Regions from separate parts of the Homo sapiens genome. Here all the other regions are linked to region 4. Evidence: fine-mapped expression QTL. A gene starts in region 4. Each other region holds a variant in brackets. All regions are shown on one strand. Distances are from middle to middle. Region 1 has its middle 76 kb from the start of EXTL2. Region 2 overlaps LOC101928334 (a long non-coding RNA gene). Region 3 overlaps DPH5-DT (DPH5 divergent transcript). Region 4 holds the start of DPH5-DT (DPH5 divergent transcript).

Region 1 (5,154 bases), 210 kb before region 4:
AAGAACTCAACCCCTTTTACAATAGCTGCAAAAATAAATAAATAAATAAGTAAATACTTAGGAATATACCTAATCAAGGAGGTGAAAGATCTCTACAAGGAAAACTACAAAACACTGCTGAAAGAAATCACAGATGACACAAACAAAGGGAAACACATCTCATGTTCATGAATGGGTAGAATCAGTATTGTGAAAATGACCATATTGCCAAAAGCACTATACAAATTCAATGCAATTCCCATCAAAATACCACCATCATCCTTCACAGAATTAGAATAAAAACAATTTTAAAATTCATATGGAACCAAAACAAAGCCTGCATAGCCAAAGCAAGACTAAGAAAAAAGAACAAATCTGGAGGCAGCACATTACCTGATTTCAAACTATGCTATTAGGTCATAGTCACCAAAACTGCATGGTATTGGTATAAAAATAGACACATAGACCAATGGAACAGAATAGAGAACCCAGAAATAAACCCAAATACTTACAGCCAACTGATCTTTGACAAAGCAAACATAAAGTGAGGAAAAGACACCCTTTTCAACAAATGGTGCTGGGATAATTGGCTAGCCACACATAGAAGAATGAAACTGAATCCTCATCTCTCACCTTATACAAAAATCAAGGACTTAAATCTAAGATCTGAAACTCTACAAATTCTAGAAGATAACATTGGAAAAACCCTTCTAGACATTGGCTTAGGCAAGGATTTCATGACCAATAACCCAAAAGCAAATGCAATAGAAACAAAGATAGATAGTTGGGACTTAATTAAACTAAAGAGCTTTTGCATGGCAAAAGGAACAGTCAGCAGAGTAAACAGACAACCCACAGAGTGGGAGAAAATCTTCACAATCTATACATCTGACAAAGGACTAATATCCAGAATCTACAAGGAACTCAAACAAATCAGCAAGAAAAAAACAAACAATCCCACCAAAAAGGGATAAGGACATAAATAGACAATTCTCAAAAGAAGATATACAAATGGCCAAAAAACACATGAAAAAATGCTCAACATCACTAATGATCATGGAAATGCAAATCAAAACCACAGTGTGATAACCTTACTCCTGCAAGAATTGCCATAATCAAAAAATAGTACATGTTGGCATGGATATAGTTAGCAGGGAACACTTCCACACTGCTGATTGGATTGTAAACTGATACAACTACTATGAAAAACAATGTGGAGATTCCTTAAAGAACTAAAAGTAGAACTACCATTTGATCGAGCAATCTCAGTACTGGTTATCTACACAGAGGAAAAATCTCAGTACTGGTTATCTATCCACAGGAAAAGAAGTCATTATATGAAAAAGATACTTGCACACTCATGTTTATAGCAGCACAATTCGCAATTGCAAAAAGGTGGAACCAACCCAAATGCCTATCAATCAATGAGTGGATAAAGAAACTGTGATATATATATATATATATATATATATATATATATATATATATATCTCACATATACATATATGTATATATCACATATACATACACACACATATATATCACATATACATACACACACATATATATCACATGTACATATATGTATATATACATATATATCACATGTACATATATGTGTGTATATATATACACACATATATGTATATATGATGGAATACTACTCAGCCATAAAAAATGAATTAATGGCATTCACAGCCTCCTGGATGAAATTGGAGACTATTATTCTTAGTGAAGTAACTCAGGAATGGAAAACCAAACATCATATAGTCTCACTCATAAGTAGGAACTAAGCTATGAGAATACAAAGGCATAAGAATGACACAATGGACTTTGGGAACTCAGGGGGGAAGGGTGGGAAGGGGGTGAAGGATAAAAGACTACAAATAGGGTGCAGTGTGTACTGCTCGGGTGAAGGGTGCACCAAAATCTCACAAATCACCACTAAAGAACGTACTCATGTAACCAAACACTACCTTTCCCCAATAATCTATGGAAATAAAAATAAAATAAAATAAATAATTAAATACATAAATAAAAATTTTTTAAAAAGGAGGACATAGTCCATAGTGTCAAATGATGATAATAACTTACATAGGAAAAAAAAACTGAAAAACATCGTTTGGATTGGCAACTAAGTGTTCACTAGTAATCTTGATTCAAGCATATTCAGGTGGAGGGCTGAGGACAGAAATCAAATGGCATTTGGTTTGAGGAGTGAAAGGGAGGTAAGGAAATTATGTGCTACTTTTTTAAGAAGTTTGATGTGAAAAGAAGCAAGACATAGAATAATGTCTACAGCAGGGTTTGGCAAATATTTTTTGTGGAGGTAAAACAGTAATTTTCAACAATTCATTGTTATTATAGAAATATAATCGCTTTTTGCATTTCTCTTGTAATCTTGCTAAATTCACTTATTAGCTTTAGTAGCTTTTTGGAAAGCCCTTAGAATTTTCTAGATAGGTGATCATATTATCTGAGAATAGTTTTACTTCTTTCCTACTAATATATATGGTTTTTATCCCTGTTTGTCCTTATTGTATTGGCTAAGACATGCAGTGCAATGTTAAATAAAAGTGGTGAGGGCAAACATCCTTGCCTTTTTCCTGAACTTAGAGGGAAAGCAATTTCCTTTCACTATTAAGTATAA[A/T]GTTAGCTGTAGCTTTTGCCTAGATAAATATTTTCAGGTGAAGAAAGTTTCCCTTTATTCCTAGTTGAATACAAATTTTTAAAAAATTACAGTGGGTGTCACATGCATTTTATTCATCTATTGAGATGATGTTTTTATGTGCTATTATGAAAAATTGCATTGATTTATTTAAATACAAATACAACTTTGCATTCTCAGGGTTGACAGGAGTCTGACTAGGGAAGTTTCTCAATAACAATCAATACTAATGACATTAGGGTGGGGAGGCAACTAGGGTACTAGTGACATTCTTGGTTGTGGGAGACTGCCCCGTGCATTGTAGGATGTTTGGCAGCTTTCCTGACCTCTACATTCCAGTACCACCTCCCAACTGTGGCAACAAAAATGTCTCTAGACATCATTAAGTGTCCTCTGGGAGGCAAAATTACCTCTGGTTAAGAACGACTGACCTAGAAAGTTAACAATTCTATTGTTCTTTACAAAGGTCTAGCTTTGGGTTTCATTGCTTTTCCCTATTGTTACTCTGTTTTTTATTTCAGTGATTTCTGCTCTTACCTTTATGGATTCTTTTTTTCTTTATTTGAATTTAATGTACTTTTTTTGTAGGAGCAAAAAAGGTGGAAACTTTGATCATTGATTTTTAAATCTTCTTTTCTAATATAAGCATTTAATGATATAAAATTTCTGCTACAAGCACTGATTTAGAAGAATTCTCTAGATTTTGTTTTTGTTTTCATTCACTTGAAAATATTTTCTAAATTCCCTTATGATTTCTTCTTTGATCCATGAGTTATTTAAAGTACATGTAAAGTATATGGTTTAATAGCTAAATATTTAGGATACTTTTTAGATATATTATTAATTTATGGTTTAATTCTGTTGTGGTCAGAATATACTCTCGTTATTTAAATCCTCTTAAGCTCAAGACTTATTTATTGGGAAGACACTTCCAAGATGGCCAGATAGGAACATTTCCGATCTACAGCTCCCAGTGATATCAATGCAGAAGATGGGTGATTTCTGCATTTCCAACTGAGGTACCTGGTTCATCTCATTGGGACAAGTTCGACATTGGTTGCAGCCCACAGAGGGTGAGCCAAAGCAGGGCGGGGGCATCACCTCACCCAGGAAGTGCAAGGGGTCGGGAGATTTCCCTTTCCTAGCCAAGGGAAGCCAAGAGTGACTGTACTTGGAGGAGCAGTACACTCCTGCCAAATTACTGCTCTTTTCCCACAGTCTTCACAACTGGCAGACCAGGAGATCCCCTCCTGTACCTGGCTCGGTGAGTCCCACACCCATGGAGACTTACCCACTGCTACAGCAGCAGTCTGAGATCAACCTGCAAAGCGGGAGCTTGGCGGGGGAAGGGGTGTCTGCCATTGCTGAGGCTTGATAGGCAGTTTTATGCTCGCAGCGTAAACAAAGCTGCAGGGAAGCTTGAATTGGGTGGCGCCCCCTGCAGCTCAGCAAGGCCTACTGCCTCTCTAGATTCCACCTCTGGGGCAGGGCATATCTGAACAAAAGGCAGCAGACAGCTTCTGCAGACTTAAATGTCCCTGCCTGACAGCTCTGAAGAGAGCAGTGGTTCTCCAAGCACGGCATTCAAGCTCCAGTAATGGACAGACTGCCTCCTTAAGTGGGTCCCTGACCCCTGTGTAGCCTGACTGGGAGACATCTCCCAGTAGGGGCCAACAGACACCTCATACAGGCAGGTGCTCCTCTGGGCTGAAGCTTACAGAGGAAGGATCAGGCAGCAATATTTGCTGTTCTGCAGCCTCCACTGGTGATACTCAGGCAAACAGGGTCTGGAGTGGATCTGCAGCTGAGGGGCCTGTCTGTTAGAAGAAAAAGTAACAAACAAAAAGGAATAGCATCAACATCAATAAAAAGGACATCCACACAAAATCCCCATCAGTAGGTCACCAACATCAAAGACCAAAGGTAGATAAAACCACAAAGATGGGGAGAAACCAGGGCAGAAAGGCTGAAAATTCCAAAAACCAGAACGCCTCTCCTCCTCCAAAGGAACACAACTCCTTGCCAGCAGGGGAACAAAACTGGATAGAGAAAGAGTTTGAGGAGTTGACAGAAGTAGGCTTCAGAAGGTCAGTAATAACAAACTTCTTTGAGCTAAAGGACCATGTTCTAACCCATTGCAAGGAAGCTAAAAACCTTGAAAAAAGGTTAGATGAATGGCTAACTAGAAAAAATAGTTTAGAGAAGAGCTTCAATGACCTGATGAAGCTGAAAACCACAGTACAAGAACTTCGTGAAGCATACACAAGCTTCAATAACCGATTCGATCAAGTGGTAGAAAGGATATCAGTGATTGAAGATCAAATTAATGAAATAAAGTGAGAAGACAAGATCAGAGAAACGAGAGTGAAAAGAAACTAATAAAGCCTCCAAGAAATATGGGACTATGTGAAAAGACCAAATCTATGTTTGATTGGTGTACCTGAAAGTGACAGGGAGAATGGAAGCAAGTTGGAAAACACACTTCAGGATATTATCCAGGAGAACTT
Region 2 (5,154 bases), 130 kb after region 4:
ACTTTAAAATATTACACAAATGTTAGTAGCCCCATGTTGAGGATGTTTGAACATGATCTGTCCCAATCTTGATCTCCTCATTACATAAACCGGATCTGCTCATAGAACATGATGCTAAGACACATGCAAAAATGTGGCCCAGCCATTTGGACCTGCATTTTATTCTCTAGCCACTTGGTTTCCCAGTTAATGAGCAAGGATCTCATTGACCACCTAGGTCCGCCTTGTTTAGATGAGCATTTGGACCCTGAGATGTTCTTACCTCAGCAGTGTTTTCTTCAGGTAACCTTTGATGCTTTCCCTCTTGTTCCACACATTATATAGTATGGGGCAAGAGACACTCCTGTCTTCTTTCTTGGCCTCTTTCAGGCTGAACTAAACCCAGACAAGCCTTCACTGGAGATGGGGAATTGGATAAATATGGACACAACTGGAGATACAATGATGAAGAGAATTTAAATAACTCAGTCTGTTCACTAAATAAATCTAGATAAAAATAAATACTTACAATAAGAAAGCTTAAGGGAAAGTGACAAAACAGATTTTAACAAGGTATGCAGCTTTCTTTGGGGTATTAATGGTTTATTTTTATTTTTATAAAAATATCTATTAGCAGTATTTATATAGTGAAAAATTAGACAAAGAGCAAAATATTTAACAAAAACTTTATTGTATTTTTTCTATTTTTCTTTCTTAAGATTTCATTTTGAAAGGTTTCAATTTATTAATCAGAAGTTTGCCTCAAATCAATGCTACACAGCAACTGCTGAAGTAATTTTAGTTACGTGTTAAGTTAAAAATTCCCCTCTAAACTGCATGTTCAATCAACTTTCACTGTGAAATAGGATTTGATGACATTTAATACTGACTCTCTTGATACAAAGGGTTGGGAAAAGGTCATTGAGTCAGTTGACATTTGCTGTGTGCCCACTGAGAGTGTGACTCTGTAGTAAGTATTATTATGTAGTAAGTATTAAGTATGAGGCACTTCATGGATCTGAAGGACTCCTCGAAAGTGAGACTTATTCAATGAAAAAGAAACTTTTATATGCTTACTACTCAAACTCTGGTGAATTTTTTCACCTTTATTTGTACTTGGGTCAGAGGGAGCTGTGACATCAAGGCAGTGATAAAGAAATAAGCCAGGGACATAAGGAATGGTATGGTAGGAGAACAGATGTAATTAAATATAGGTAGCTCCAAATTAACTAGTACAGTGCTAAGACTCTTCTGAATGCTCAGTTAATATTTATTGATGAGGCCATTCATACGCATACATCCTTTCTTTCCCCAAATCCCTTTGCAGGCAGCACATTGGAGGTTGTCTGGGCTCTGAAGTTCATCTTATAATATTCTCTGCATAAAATGAAATACATTCTGAGGTCTGAGACTGTTCGAGAACTTTCAAATTCTTTTTTCACTTTTATAGTCCCCATATAATTTAACTTTTCTAAAAGTTTATAGACATGTTCATTTGGTTTAAAATTTTTTTCTTTCTTTCTTTATGGCGGTAAATATACATCATATAAAATTTACCATTTTAACCATTTTTAAGTATATAATTCAGTGGGATTAAGCACATTCACAATATTGCATTGCTTTTTGTCTAGCTGAATGGGATTCTCAATGTGCCTGTGACAGAGATGAATGAAGTATTAGCTAAGAAACAATTGTAGTCAGCTTAAAGGACATTCCATAATCACAGAATACTCAGTAGGGGACACAAATACACATCACATAGGAATTGAGTAGATCCCAAATACCATCCAAAGAGGCAGGAAAGCCCCATAACTGCTGTGTCATGTGCAGCATCAGATCTTTGTTGGAACAGATTGTCTTATAGCAGGCCAATACGAATTTGTCATTGATGCATAATTAATGAACTGAAAAATGGATGAATGAGATTTCTCTCTAATTAATGTGTCCCTAATATCTGGCACAAAAGCAAGCTGTATTAATTAGTAGAGTGGTTGTTGTGTGTGTGTGATTGTGTGTGGATGTGGCGTGTCTGTCTGTAAGCATAGTTTGACATGTTTTATTTTTCAGCCTGTTTCTTTGTCTGCTCTTATCCTTCTTCCTAATTCCTACCCTCTCATCACTCCTTTTGTTCTTCTCAGAATTGCATTTTGTTTTTATATGTGGATGAGGGAGAAGGATGACAGATTGAATGATTCCATTTTTAGATGGATGTCTGAGCATACATGAATTAATCAATATTTCATAATCTAGGTGATGAAAGCCCCTCCTTTTTTAAAGCATGAGGACATTATGCTTTGTGTGTGCAGCTTAACTACTATTAAGGTTAACGGAAATCAGGCGACAAAGCCCCTTTCTTGAGTTGATAACATGCACTAGTGTGCATCATTGTCAATTATACATACACTCTTAATCACTTTGGGAGGGAGGAGAGGTAAATCCCGCTGCTGAGCCAAAGCACCTCATGTAAGGATTATTGGCCAGCATTAGGATCTGAACTTAAAATCTGAATTCTCTATTTTCTTTCTAACTTATTCTACAATTGTTAATTAAGTCAAATATTCCCCTAGGAAATGAGTGAATGTGTGGGTGCTTGCACATGGC[G/GT]GGGGGAAGGGGGTGAAAATAAAAAACACTGAAGGCAAAGAGGAAGAATATTTTTGCATTCGTATTTTAGGACTACTAAAATGTGTAGCTTGTTTTTATAAAATCTTGAATCTGAATACTTGTCTGCAGATATAATATCTTCCATTAGGTGTATAGTTCTGGTATTTTTAGTTCCAGGTGTGAAATAACCTCTATTGAAAGATTTACTCCTCATTTGGCTAGACATTTCTTCATTCAACAGATATTTATGAAGTCTATTCTATGCCAGGTAGTAAGTGCTGTGAAGATAATTAGGCTTTTACCATCAAGTAGCTCCTTGACTAATGAGAAAAACTGACATATAAACAGGCATTTAAAAATGTATGAGCATTCAGTTTGCTAGAGTTTAAATTCAAGCTCAAGACTGATGAAAGGAGAGGCTGGAGATGTAGGGAGAGGGCACATTGTGGAAAGTCAGTCCAGCAAAGATGCTGTAATGAACAATGATTTGAAATAACAGAAATGGAGTTCACACTCCCTGACAGTTTAGCACAAGCCTTCCAGACTGTGGCCCTACCTAGAGTATTGAGTCTTCTGCTAGACCTCCTGCATCTGCCTACATCCTGGAGAAGAGAGGGAGGAGTTAGGCCTGAGTCCACCCTGGAGTGGCACACATCAGTTCTTCCCATGGTGATCATATGACCCAGTTTATGCCTGAATTCTCAGCACAACAATTAATAGTGCCCTCTTTCACTCTTAACAGTGTCTCGGTTTGGACAATAAATTACATGATCACATTAATTTCTCCCATATTCTATGAGTGAGAATTCAATCACATGGTCACACCTAACTTCAAGGGATGCTGGAAATCCTATGTGATCAAGAGGAAAAGGCAATGGATATTGTCGAATGCAAGGCAGTTTCTGTTGCACATGTCAAGAGGTTTAAAACTTTATTCTCCATATCCATTGACTTTTGAACATGCTCACCTAAATACGAATATTTCTTTGAAGTCTTCCAGTATATTTTGCAAATTCATAGGGATCATGCATCCTGCTCCATATACGTGTGTTTTTCTTAAAATAAAATAATGTACTTTATTTCTTCAAAAATCTATACAAATAAGTAATGCTCCAGGAATATGTTCCATTCTTTGTGGGAGAAATTCTTTGCAGGTATGTGCAAATTATGTATCTGCATATATAGAGATATCCAGCAGACTTTCAATAAAATATTAAAACATGTTTATTTCTGATGGTAGAATTGGAGATGACGTTTCCTTTTTCTCTGCATTTTTCCACATCATTTTGGAATTTAAGAACGGTTTTTATTAGTTTTATTAGTGAAGTTAGTTTTTATTTTAGTTTTATTTCATTTTTATGAAGAGCCACCTCATATAGCATTGGCTGTATGAATATCCAACTTGGAACACACAGCACTGAACAAACAGTCAGGTAGAAGAATGACCTGGCCAGATTTTCATTTTAAATAGGACATTCTGACAGCTGCATGGAGTGCAGATTCCAAAAGACAGAGACTGGGAGCAGGGAGACCAATCCAGACTGTTATAGGTATCTGGATAAAAGACGATAGAGGATCTGATCTAGGTTGGTGATAGTAGGAATGTTTGGAGATTAAATCAGTAGAGCTAAATAAACCAAAAAAGAATTATTGATAAATTTGACTATGTAAACAGTAAAGGTTTTGCTTCTTCAAAACATCATAAAATTAAGTTTAAAAAGTAAGGGACAAACTGTAAAAAACACTTGTGAGATATGAATGATAAGAAAGATGGGAAAGGTTGGCATCCTGGATATATTAAGAGCTCTTAACAATAAGAGAAAAGTATTCTAATATAAAAATGAACTCAGCAATTTATCAAAGAATAAACATGACCTCCAAAATGTTAAAACCTGACCAAAGATAAAAAAATACTGGAAATAAAAATACAATCTTCATTATCATATTAGTGAAGATAGTCACAGAATACAGTACAGATATATGTACAAAGTATTCATCTTGGAACTGTTAATAACAATGAAAATTGAGAAAATAATTCTTTCAACGAAAGGTTTGTTAATAAATTATTATAGATCCCCCTATTGGAATATTAGGTAATGATTAAAAATTATTGCATAGATATATAATATTGAAATAGAAAGTTGTTTGTGCATCACAATGCCTGTGACCTATTATTAAGTAAAAACTGGTTATCAAACTTCAAGTATAACATGCCAACTTTATGTAAAATTCTTTTTGTGTGTGTGTGTGTGTGTGTGCAAAACATATATCTGCATATGTAGGGATACCTAGAAGACTTTCAATAAAATATTAAAACATGCTTATTTCTGGATGGTAGAATTGCAGATAGCTTTTCCTTTTTCTCTGTATTTTTCCACATCATTTTGGAATTTTAAAATAGACACCATGCACTATTCATATAATTTTTAAGTAAACAAAGCCTTATTATTTGGGGGAAAAACAAAAGCTAGTAGGTATTTTTTACTCCAAGGGTGTAAAAAATAATGAGGACTTGGTGATTGATTGATTATAGAGAGCAAATGAGAAGGACTGGGCAAAGATGACTTTCAATTC
Region 3 (5,154 bases), 54 kb after region 4:
AGCAACAGTTACTTCTTTTAGGCTATTTTCTGTTTTTGTTTGGTTTTGTTTTGTTTTCTTTTCCCTCAAACTGCTAATAACTATATACATACCACTACTTCTCGCTTCTCTTTTTTTACTTTGGCTCTAGATGGAATGATAGGGTATGCATAAATGTTCATGTGGGCTCTGGAGTATACCAGGAACTGAAGTAAGGTACATGGACGTCTTGAATATTGTAACTGAGATGGGCAAGCCTACACCTTTGCAAATAAAGGAGGATTGGGAAAGATTAAGGTGAGCTTTCTCGCAAACAGATGGGTCATGGGAATAAGGAATTCTGAATGCATGAACAGTGATGCTGAAAAGCAGGGGGTCTTCAAACTATACTCAAGGGCCAAATCATTGCCTCTTTTTATAAGTGAAGTTTTATTAGACTACTGCTCCACCCATTCATTTAAATGTGGTCTATGGCTGCTTTAGGACTTAAAATGCCAGAATACTTGTGACAGAAACCTTCTGGCCCTCAAAGCCTAGAATATACACTATCTGGCTCTTTAAAGAAGTTTGCCAACACCTGCTCCATTGTAAGGAGGATATTAGTCGGGTTCTAACAGAATTGCTTGTTGAACTAGGGTTTAAAACACATGGTAGAGACTCCACTGCCATAACCAGAGAGAAGACTGCCAAGAATTAGGCTAACTTGTTCTCAGGCAAAAAGGCTACGTAAAAGGCAGAATCTCAGTTCTGCAGGGCCAGTGCAGGAGGTGAGGAGGCAGGGGTTACACTGGTGTCCGTGGGTCATTGTTCATGCAATGGATACTCGGTCTGGTTGAGGGATACATGCAAGGCTAGAATTTGTGCTGAGTCACCAGATTTAAGATCTGGGAAAAAATAATGTACATTTCTTGACTTCAAAGACGTGGGGGCCATTAATCCAGATTTTACCCTTGTTGAACTAACTCAGGAATGGAAAACACTCTTGGTGAGGAAATGGGACACTGAATAGGGATACTTCCTACCAGCCCAAGACTAGGGTTAGGGAAGGACTCACTTATTGGTAAGAAAGGATTTTTGCCTCTACAGACCTTTACTTAGACCTGTACTTAAATGAGGTAAGAAGTGAGAAAGCAATATTTCTCAAGTGCCTACAAACCTGAGGAGTCTTTTTCCATTTGTATGTTACTCAAGATCTCAAAATGCCACAGCTCTTTAAAAGGGCTTCTTCTCTCCTTTGTATTGGTGGCTTGCAACATGCTATTTGAATCTTTCAGCAGGCTGACCTGTTTGGCTAATGCTATAACCCAAATTAATTGTTCTTTCCTCTATGTTTTTATTTATTTATTTATTTATTTATTTATTTATTTATTTATTTTTTTGAGACAGAGTCTCGCTCTGTTGCCCAGGCTGGAGTGCAGTGGCACCATCTCGGCTCACTGCAAGCTCCGCCTCCCGGGTTCACGCCATTCTCCTGCCTCAGCCTCCCGAGTAGCTGGGACTACAGGCGCCCGCCACCACGCCTGGCTAATTTTTTGTATTTTTAGTAGAGACGGGGTTTCACCGTGTTAGCCAGGATGGTCTCAATCTCCTAACCTCGTGATCCGCCCGCTTCGGCCTCCCAAAGTGTTTTTATTTGATCTTATCACAGTAGTCAGCATATTTTGCCTTGTATTATACTTATATGTGTACATGTAGTCTTCCCCCAGACTAGCCATTACTTGAGAGCAAAATTTTAGCCTTATCCGTCTAAATATCCCCCAAGTGCTTATCTAGTGAATGCCTAATTGTAATGCCTATTGACTTAAATGGAATTTAATTAAATGGGGTTTGTTATATTCTGCTAAGACTGTAGTAGATGTAGACACAAGTCTGATTCTTTTCTTATAACTACCATTTTCCCCTGTTATGGATATATCAAATTACTTACCACCCTTAACATCTCCTCCAGATTAATTTGTCTTGTGTAAGCCCCTAGTTGACCAAAGCTGATGGCTGATTAAATTCCCCCAAGGGAACTCAGCCACACAGCCACATAGGTTTTTTTTCTTTTTTGGTTGCAAAAAGCAGAAAGGTGCGTATGCAACAGAGACCATCTTAAACACGAGAATTATTAGAGTAGCTCACAGAAAGGTATCACTGAACAAGCAAGCTTCAGGAGGTTAGAAACCAGGACAATTCTGAGGACTCGAGCATTGAGAACTCATGAACTCTTTGACCCAGAGCACCCCAAGGCACCTCCACTTAAGACTCAAATTCGAAGGATCTGTGTAAGCCAGCTTGATTCAATAATCTAATTCTGTGCTCAGGAAACAGGTGGTTCCTTTTTTTTTTTTTTTAAATCAGAATTTGGAGTTAAGAGGATGCAGGGAGAGTGGTAGACAAACGGAAACAAGTGTTACCATAGCAATCTATTAGAGGGCAAACTAAGCCACCAGGAGTCTCTCAAGAACAAACAAACAAACAAACAAATGTTATGAATGACTTTTGGCTTAAATGTCATGTAGACTAAGACTGGAGGCGCAATGGAGAAGGAGGGAAAACTGAGAGCTGATAGAAGCAAAATGAAGGATAGGAGTGAGCATCCCCTAAGATGGACAAGGTGCCTTCATTTCCTAATGGTTTCTCCTCTTCTTTTCTTTGAACCTACCAATGTGTGGTTATTTTCCTTGCAATATTGTGTTGTAAGATATCCTTCCAATTTAGAAACAGAAAGG[G/A]TAGTAATTGCCTCATGTTAGAATATTTAGCTATAGAATAATAGGAATCAAAATTATTTTAGACATCAAAGAGTATGGAAAATCAAAGATAATCTGAGGCAGCAAGACACAAATCCCATTTGTCAATTCTGCCATTTGGTGATCATGATGGTAGTGATTTGAGATATGTCTAGCTAAGTACCAAGCACTGTTTTAAGTATTTACATATATTGTTCTCTCAAAAACTCTGACGTGTAGGTAGAATTATTAGCCTCATTTTACACATAAGAGAGCTAAAGTATACAAAGAATAAGTAATGGAGCCAGGATTCAAATTTCCTAATTCAACATCAAAGCCTAAATTCCTGAAAGTGCAAGTCTCTCACAAACTTCAGGAATTCCACAGCATACCAGAAATCTTAAGTTTTAGGGTGGTTCGAAACCTTATAAATCCCTTTGAGTCAAAAATTTCTCTTTTTTTCCAGATCCTGTTAAACGTCAGTGTTACTATTTAGCCTTTGATATCTCCAGTAAAGGCAACTTCTTTCTGGACCCAGAAATAAAGCTTTACATTAGCAGCTTCCATAACACCAATAACATGAATGACCATCTACTGAGCAATTGCAGTGCACCAGGATTATGGCTTATGAGCACTTTATGTTTATTATCTCACAACTCACTGAGTTAGATACTCTCCACAACCCAGTGAGGTAAATACTATTACTTCCACAGTATATATTATTATATAATAAAATGCTTAGAATATACACACAGTAACTAAACACTACTTATAAAATATGGCTCTAGATATGTTTGATAAATATTTCCTTCATGAAAACATGGAGGAATTAATTAGCAGTATCTCTCTGCAGCCTTTAGCCCTCGAGAATCATGTAGAAAAGAGGAGCTGTCTTCTCTTTTAGCAGAACATCTGTCAGAGATGGTTTCCCCTGACTTAGACAATTGTGTTTTTTTCCCTTCAGAATGATTGAGTCTCAGAATTGTTCTTTAATCCTCAGTATTTCCATTAAGAAGAGCTTCTATCAAGTGCTTCAAAAGTACCCAATGTGAAGGAGTAATAATGACTCCCTGCTGGTGAGCGAAGTGTGGAGGACACAGGTCCCTCAGCCGTCCACTGGATGCTGCACTGTTTGGCCTGAGCCAACATGGGCAGAAATACAGGCGGCAGCATAAGCAGATGCCAAGAACCTGTCTTGCTTCTACTGTTTTCATTGGGTTACTATATCTCCTTTGTAGTCCAACCTGCAAATTACTTTGAGAAGGGGAGATACACCCCTGGACCAATCTAGGACTATATTTGTTCCCTTGCTAAAGTAGGAAAAAAAATACAGAACCTTTAAATATTGAACTCAAGGGCAACTAATTTAAATTCCTTTCCTTTCATGTTGAAAGTCTTTTGACTGGGTTATTCTGAAGCCATAGCAATTAGGTTACAGTTTACTTCTCTGTTACTTTACCATCTTTAAATTTGGCACCTTCAAAAGGTTGTTCTGTGCGTTTAAAAAAAAAAAGGAACTACCGTTGGATATTGTATTGTTGATGACCATTATTTGATTCTGGATTCTTTTGTGTGTTTGTGTTTGGGTGTTTTTGGTTGTTGTTTGTTTGTTTTCTAGAGACGGGGGGTCTCACTATGTTGTCCAGACTAGATTCGAGCCCCTGAGCTCAAGGGATTCTCCAGCCCCAGCCTCCCGAGTAGCTGGAACTGCAGGCACCCGCCACCACGCCCAGGGACAGTTACTTGATTCTTAATAGTCCAGTCATAATGAGACAGGATACTGCATAAGCCAAAGACCACACAAAGTATCAATGTTAAGTATCAAGAGGGTGTGGAGGAAGTGGGTTACAACCACTTTGTCTCCCAACTGTTGTATGTTTTGCCTTTAAAAATTTTTTTAAGTACGTTAAATTCTAATGTACTCAGATGTGGCTGAAACAATGACAAAACATTAGTTTTCTTTAAATATGCGTGACTTTTAAGCTTTTTCCCTTTCCCAGTGACTTGCTTCTCCACTAAGCTCTTTTTTTCTTTTTTTTTTTTCCTCAAATATTATTGTTTCATGTCACTGTGACAAGTTTAGTCTACTGGAAATTCCTATGTCCTCTGTAATTTAGGTTTTAAGCAACATATGATTTATCTTGTTATTTTAAAAAAACTATCTGCCTTCCCTAAGTGGGCAACTCTCTGGCATCCTTAATATTCTTCTATAGAAATTGTGATGAAAGAACAGATAAGCCTAAGTAAATCTAGCGTGTGGAGCTCCTTTAAAATGTGAAGACCTTGCCAACTGGTTAAAAATAAAACTTGGTTTTGTCCTAAATATCCTTGCTGGGCCTATTATACATAAAAAAAGGGGCCACAGCCCATTTGCAAGGCTTCTGAATGAACTCCATTCATTCTGTACTTGGAAATGTCTCTTCAGCCACAAAAAGAAACAATAGTTATAACCTAATTTCTTTGG
Region 4 (5,154 bases):
TAACAGCAGCCAAAATTAACATTTAGCTAGCACTGAAAATTTACAAAGCACTTTCATATACATCATCTCAATAAAACACTACATAACCCTCCAACTGGTAATTGCCACTTGACAAATGAAGAAACTGAGGTTCAGAGAAGTTTGGAAATGTGAACATTGACAATTTCTATTTCTGAACAGTTTTGTGCCATATACCATAGTTAAGAACCTATGCTAAGAATTATGCTGAACACCTAAAGTAGATGTTTTTTACCCCATTTAAAAAAGACACTAAAGTTAAAGGACTTGTCCAAGGTCACATTAACATGTAACAAAGATAAAACTATAACCAAACTTTCCTCTATGCCATCCCCTGATATCTCATTCTATCAAACTGCTGTTTTGTTATTTGTCTGTCTTTTCTTGAAGGTGTTAAGTTCCTTTTACTTTTCCTTAATCACTGATTAGAGACGCACATTTCCATCATTTCGAGCTTAGATATTTTGGTTCTATCCTAAGAGTGAAAAAATGAGAAAAAAAAATGTTTTTTAAATCAAAGCTGGCCTTAGGCTGGGTGTGGTTGCTTGTGCCTATACAATCCCAGCACTTTAGGAGGCCGAGGTGGGCAGATCACTAGAGTCCAGGAACTTGTGACCAGCCTGGGCAATGTGGCAAAACCCTGTCTCTACAAAAAATACAAAAAATTAGCTGGGCATGATGGCACCCACCTGTAGTCTCAGCTACTCGAGAGGTTGAGGTGGGAGGATACTTGAGCCCAGGAGGCTGAGGCTGCAGTGAGCCATGATCATACCATTGCACCCCAGCCTGGGCAACAGAGCAAGACTTATTTTCTCTCTCTCTCCACATATATGTATATATCAAAGTTGGTCTTTACACACAACTTTTATTTAAATGCATGGCCAATTCAAGTAGCAGTTCTTAATTCCTTCTATAAGATTTTAAAGTAATCTGAGGCCTAAAAATTTTAAGTCTATTTTTTGTTTGGAAGACATGACAATAAATCTGCTCCCTCCTCCCATAACATATGTATTAATCCTTTGATTTACATTCTACTTAGAGTTTGACAATGAACCTGAAGTTGACCCTTCCCCCAAATTTACTGGGCCCTTATGAGGGCCAACTATAAATGTATAATATACTAACAAATACTTTGGTTACTTAGTGTATACTCATGTAAGTGTATACTCATACATTTTTATATATTAAGTCCAGGCTCACTCAATATATACAAGTGTATCAGTATAAGCCTTATTGGGAGATAGTCTATTTAAGATAAGATCTCTCTGGATAGGATACAAAAAGGCAATCGCCATTCCCTATGGACACACTTCAAAGGGGGAAGCTTTCAGCTTGGTTTTTGAATATATATAACCAACTCATTAAGGCTGTGTCAGCTCCTCATTAGCACTCAACTCAGAAAGGGTTTCTTGACTACCTCATGAAATAAGGGGTTTTGATAACTATCCCCCAGGAGTATAAAATAGCTTTCCTATTTACTGGAGAAAGCCACAAAATTAGACTTGTAAAATAGGACAAAGCACCCTTTCATTTTCCAAGTCACTTGGTTGGTGTAAAATTTCCATTCTTCTGCTCCTCAGATCATTAATGAACAAGGGATGCGTTTCAAAGGGTTTAAACAAGCAGACCTGAAAATTCTGTTCAGCTTAGTGTATGAAAATCAGATGTTAGATAGCTTTCTTCCCAGGAGGCTGGGGAACGCTCAGCACCTACCAAGGCTTCCTTCCCTACAGTTAGGACTGAGGTGTAGGCTTCCAGATACACTCGACTGCAGCGTCTAACAACTTCCAGGCCCTTGACTGTGATGTCCTTGGCATCTCCCAGGCCCAACCCGATGAGATAAAGCATTTCAAACTTGAGGAGAAGAGAGACTGCAAGACGAAGTGGACAGAAAAACCGTCAGTAACACCGAGGACATCTAAAATCTAGTGATGAACACGATGACAACCAAAGTAGCACAAGAGAAGAGGCAAGTCACAAGGAGGGGTTTGGGAACCTTATGTCACGCTTAAGAACTGGGATAAGAGGTTTTAAACAACCCTACCAGTTTTGCCTCTTGTTACACAAACCTAGGAGCAGCCAATTACCCGCTGAGAGAATCGTAGGTAGTTCTCTGGCCTTTACAAATTCTTAACTACCACCTTTCCGCAGAAGCAACTGCAAAAGCGCCGGCTCCGTGCAGAGAAAAGGCCCACGCCGCCGGCCTCACCTACGGTGCCGCAAAATGCTGGTGCCTTTACTGCACTTTACGACTAGCGGGAGGGGGCCGGGCTAGCGGGCTACTGGGCTGCGGAGACCAGAGCCCGGCTCCACTGAAGAAACCCGCCGGCTGCTGGGGCAGGGCGGCGAAAGGTCAGTCGGCCGAGAGGAGTCCGTGGAGCCACCGTTTCATAGCCTCAGGGAAAGGATCGGGCGTGCTCACGAGCCCTCTAACCCATGGCTTAAACACCCGCTTCCTAAGCCTGGGTAAGTGCAGTAGCTCTTCGCTCGAGAGGAGCCACGTGGAAGAGAGTCGGGAGGGGCCCTGCGCCCTACTCCTCCTCTCCAGAAACAGGGAGGGCTGGGAAGGATTTTCCTGATTTGTCCCCGGATTTGGCCGAGTGCACAGATTTTAATTCCAGTCTTCTCATCCTCCTGTAGTTCAACTAGGTGTCTTCCTGGTGAAGCGTGAGATTGGCAAACCCAGCAGTGAGTGTGCTTCTGATTTCCCAACAAGGCAATGACTCCTTGGGTTTGTCCCCAAGACCTTATGCCTGGAGTGCCCCAAGGATGTTTCAGTCACCCTCAGTGTCAGGAATCCCAGACCTTCCTGTACCTAAAGAAGTGACCTTTAATAGTGCTCAGGGATTTCAGACCTCTCAAGTGTTTCTGCCGGGGGAATTCTTATAAAGCTGTTGGTTACATGTAATTAGAAATAGGGAAGATTTGTTTTGACTGAAAATGCTCTTCCCAAGGTGACCTCATCCAAGTTAAAAAAGACAGCTGTCATTGCTTTTCTTAGCAGGCAGTGTTGGTTACTCAGAATTTTCCTGTTGCCTCCCCGACAATGCCCAACTCCGCTTCCTTGAACCTTGGCTTTTTTTCATTCCCAGGTTCCATCCACCTTTTTGCACTTCCTATCTATAAACTCTTCGTGGCTGTGTTTTATCCCCTCTCATTACGTTGATCTATTCCTCACACCACATACACACCCCAAAAAACTCAAAATGGATCGTAGATGTAAATGGAAAACCTAAACCTATACCAGAAGAAAACATAGGAGGAAATATTCGTGACCTTATTTAGGCAAATATTTCTTAAACCAAAAGCGTGATGAAAAAAATTGATAAATTGGACTTCAACAAAGTAAAAATTTATGCTCTTCAAAAGACTTGAAGCCACATACTGAAAATATTTACAAAGCATGTATCTGATGAAGGACTTGTATGGAGAATATATAAGGAGCACTCAGAAAGCAATAATAAAACAGTTCGTTGTTTAAAAATGGGCAAAAGATTTGAATAGACACCAAAGAAGATACACAAATAGCAAATAATTATTTTAAAAGATCTTAAACAAACAAAAAAAGATCCTAAACATCATTAGACATTAGGAAAATAAACATTTAAATCACAATGAGCTACCACAACCCACCTATTAGAATGGCTTAAGTAAAACAAACAAAACCTCACAAAAACTGGCTGTTCACTCAGAATTCCTAGTATCGCTAATATTTTGTAGATTCAAATTTCAGCCTCCTATCCAGACTTCCTCCCTCTTGGCTTCATGTTAACGTTCTGCTGGAAATCTTCACCTAGATAACCCGGAAGCATATTCAACACATCCAAGGTTGAATCCATCACCTTCCCTTTCCATTTTGCTTTTCTTTCCATATTATCTACTTGGATGGGTCGGGGGTGGGGGTGGGTGAGGAGAGTATTGTCATCAACAGATTAACCCCAGCCAGACACTTGGGAGTCACCCCCACATCGTCTGTCATGTCTGCCTGTATATCTCAATAGAAACCATACCGTCTATCACCATCTTGATTCTCAGGTCCTCATTTTGTCACTCTTGTAGCTGATAATAATGTCTCCTTCACTCAAGGGGGTCAGAGAGTTATAGTTAACAATCTGAAAATATTACACCCCTTCTAGATCCTTCTGAGGCCAAGAGAAAGTCCAGGTTTGTTAACATACCCCACAAGATCATTCGTGGTGTGGCCACTGCCTACCTTTTTAGCATCATCTCTCTCCACTCCATACCATGAGCTTTCTCGCTTTCTCTCCAGCAATACTGAATTGCTTGTAGTTCTCTGCCCACAACATGCTGCTTTGTTCCTCTACGCTGCTGCCTCATCATAGAATATTGTCTCCCATTCTCTCCTGCCTAGATCACTAATACCCATTCTTTAAGACCAAGTTCAGGAAGCCTTCCCAGAGACCCTCACCCCCCTAAGCTAATTTAGGTTTCTCCTCTTCATTACAGTATTACTCTACATATACTTACTAACCAATTTATGAGATTTTATATTTGTTCATTTGTATTTCTTCTTTACCAAACTATTGATTTAGTTAATTCAGGGACTGCATCTTATTTGTATGCTCATCTTAGGTTTAGCACTATCCCTTGCACATAATAGGTATTAAATAAATGTTTGTTGAATAAATCATTATTATCCACTAGTAGCTGAGCTACGTATTTTTCCATCTTTATTAATACAGAGGGTGGTATGTTTTAAAAAACTACCAAAAAAATCATTAATGGAATATCAAATATAAATATGCCTGTCTCATGCCACTTTAGAAGGTCATTTGTATTGAAAGGCTTGCAACACACAAAACATATAGTTCATATGCATGCTATTGAGTAGGTAAACACATTTTCCAATGTGTTGATCATTTATGTTTTTTGTTTTCAGATTTAAAAAAATAATAATTTCAGGTAGATTCACAGTGCAAGGACACTGCCAAAAAGGATGATTAAGTAATCTGAAGAAGGTGTGGTTTATCTCCTTTCAGGAAATATATCTATATTGAAAATAAAGTTATTCTGGGTAATCAAGGAAGTGAAACATTGCCTGAAATAACAGTAATAATTTGTTTTTAAGCTTCAAAATGTAGCCAGAGGAACTTAGTTTTACCACGGAGAATTCTT

Evidence for each region. PIP is the estimated chance that this variant, and not a neighbour inherited with it, causes the effect.
Region 1: its variant is fine-mapped to the expression of DPH5-DT in substantia nigra (GTEx, PIP 0.90).
Region 2: its variant is fine-mapped to the expression of DPH5-DT in subcutaneous fat (GTEx, PIP 0.93).
Region 3: its variant is fine-mapped to the expression of DPH5-DT in spleen (GTEx, PIP above 0.99). The same link has a PIP of 0.9 or more in coronary artery, subcutaneous fat, tibial nerve and transverse colon.

Annotation. Positions count from the first base shown.
Region 1 is chr1:100,816,386-100,821,539 of GRCh38, forward strand. No RefSeq gene overlaps it. Among named protein-coding and RNA genes, the nearest start is that of EXTL2, 76 kb to the right of the region's middle. The variant A/T (reference allele first, on the strand shown) is at 2,630.
Region 2 is chr1:101,152,953-101,158,106 of GRCh38, forward strand. All of the region lies in intron 1 of LOC101928334 (a long non-coding RNA gene), which reads left to right. Among named protein-coding and RNA genes, the nearest start is that of S1PR1-DT, 81 kb to the right of the region's middle. The variant G/GT (reference allele first, on the strand shown) is at 2,581.
Region 3 is chr1:101,077,233-101,082,386 of GRCh38, forward strand. DPH5-DT (DPH5 divergent transcript) reads left to right here. Exons shown (of 5, transcript NR_109849.1): 3 at 131-276. Among named protein-coding and RNA genes, the nearest start is that of DPH5-DT, 54 kb to the left of the region's middle. RefSeq lists a silencer at 4,433-4,512. The variant G/A (reference allele first, on the strand shown) is at 2,694.
Region 4 is chr1:101,023,578-101,028,731 of GRCh38, forward strand. DPH5-DT (DPH5 divergent transcript) reads left to right here and starts at 2,269. Exons shown (of 5, transcript NR_109849.1): 1 at 2,269-2,484. It overlaps DPH5 (diphthamide biosynthesis 5), which reads right to left and starts at 2,207. Exons shown (of 8, transcript NM_015958.3): 1 at 2,106-2,207; 2 at 1,732-1,889. The coding sequence starts at 1,866. RefSeq lists enhancers at 1,737-2,936, 2,029-2,138 and a silencer at 3,930-3,989.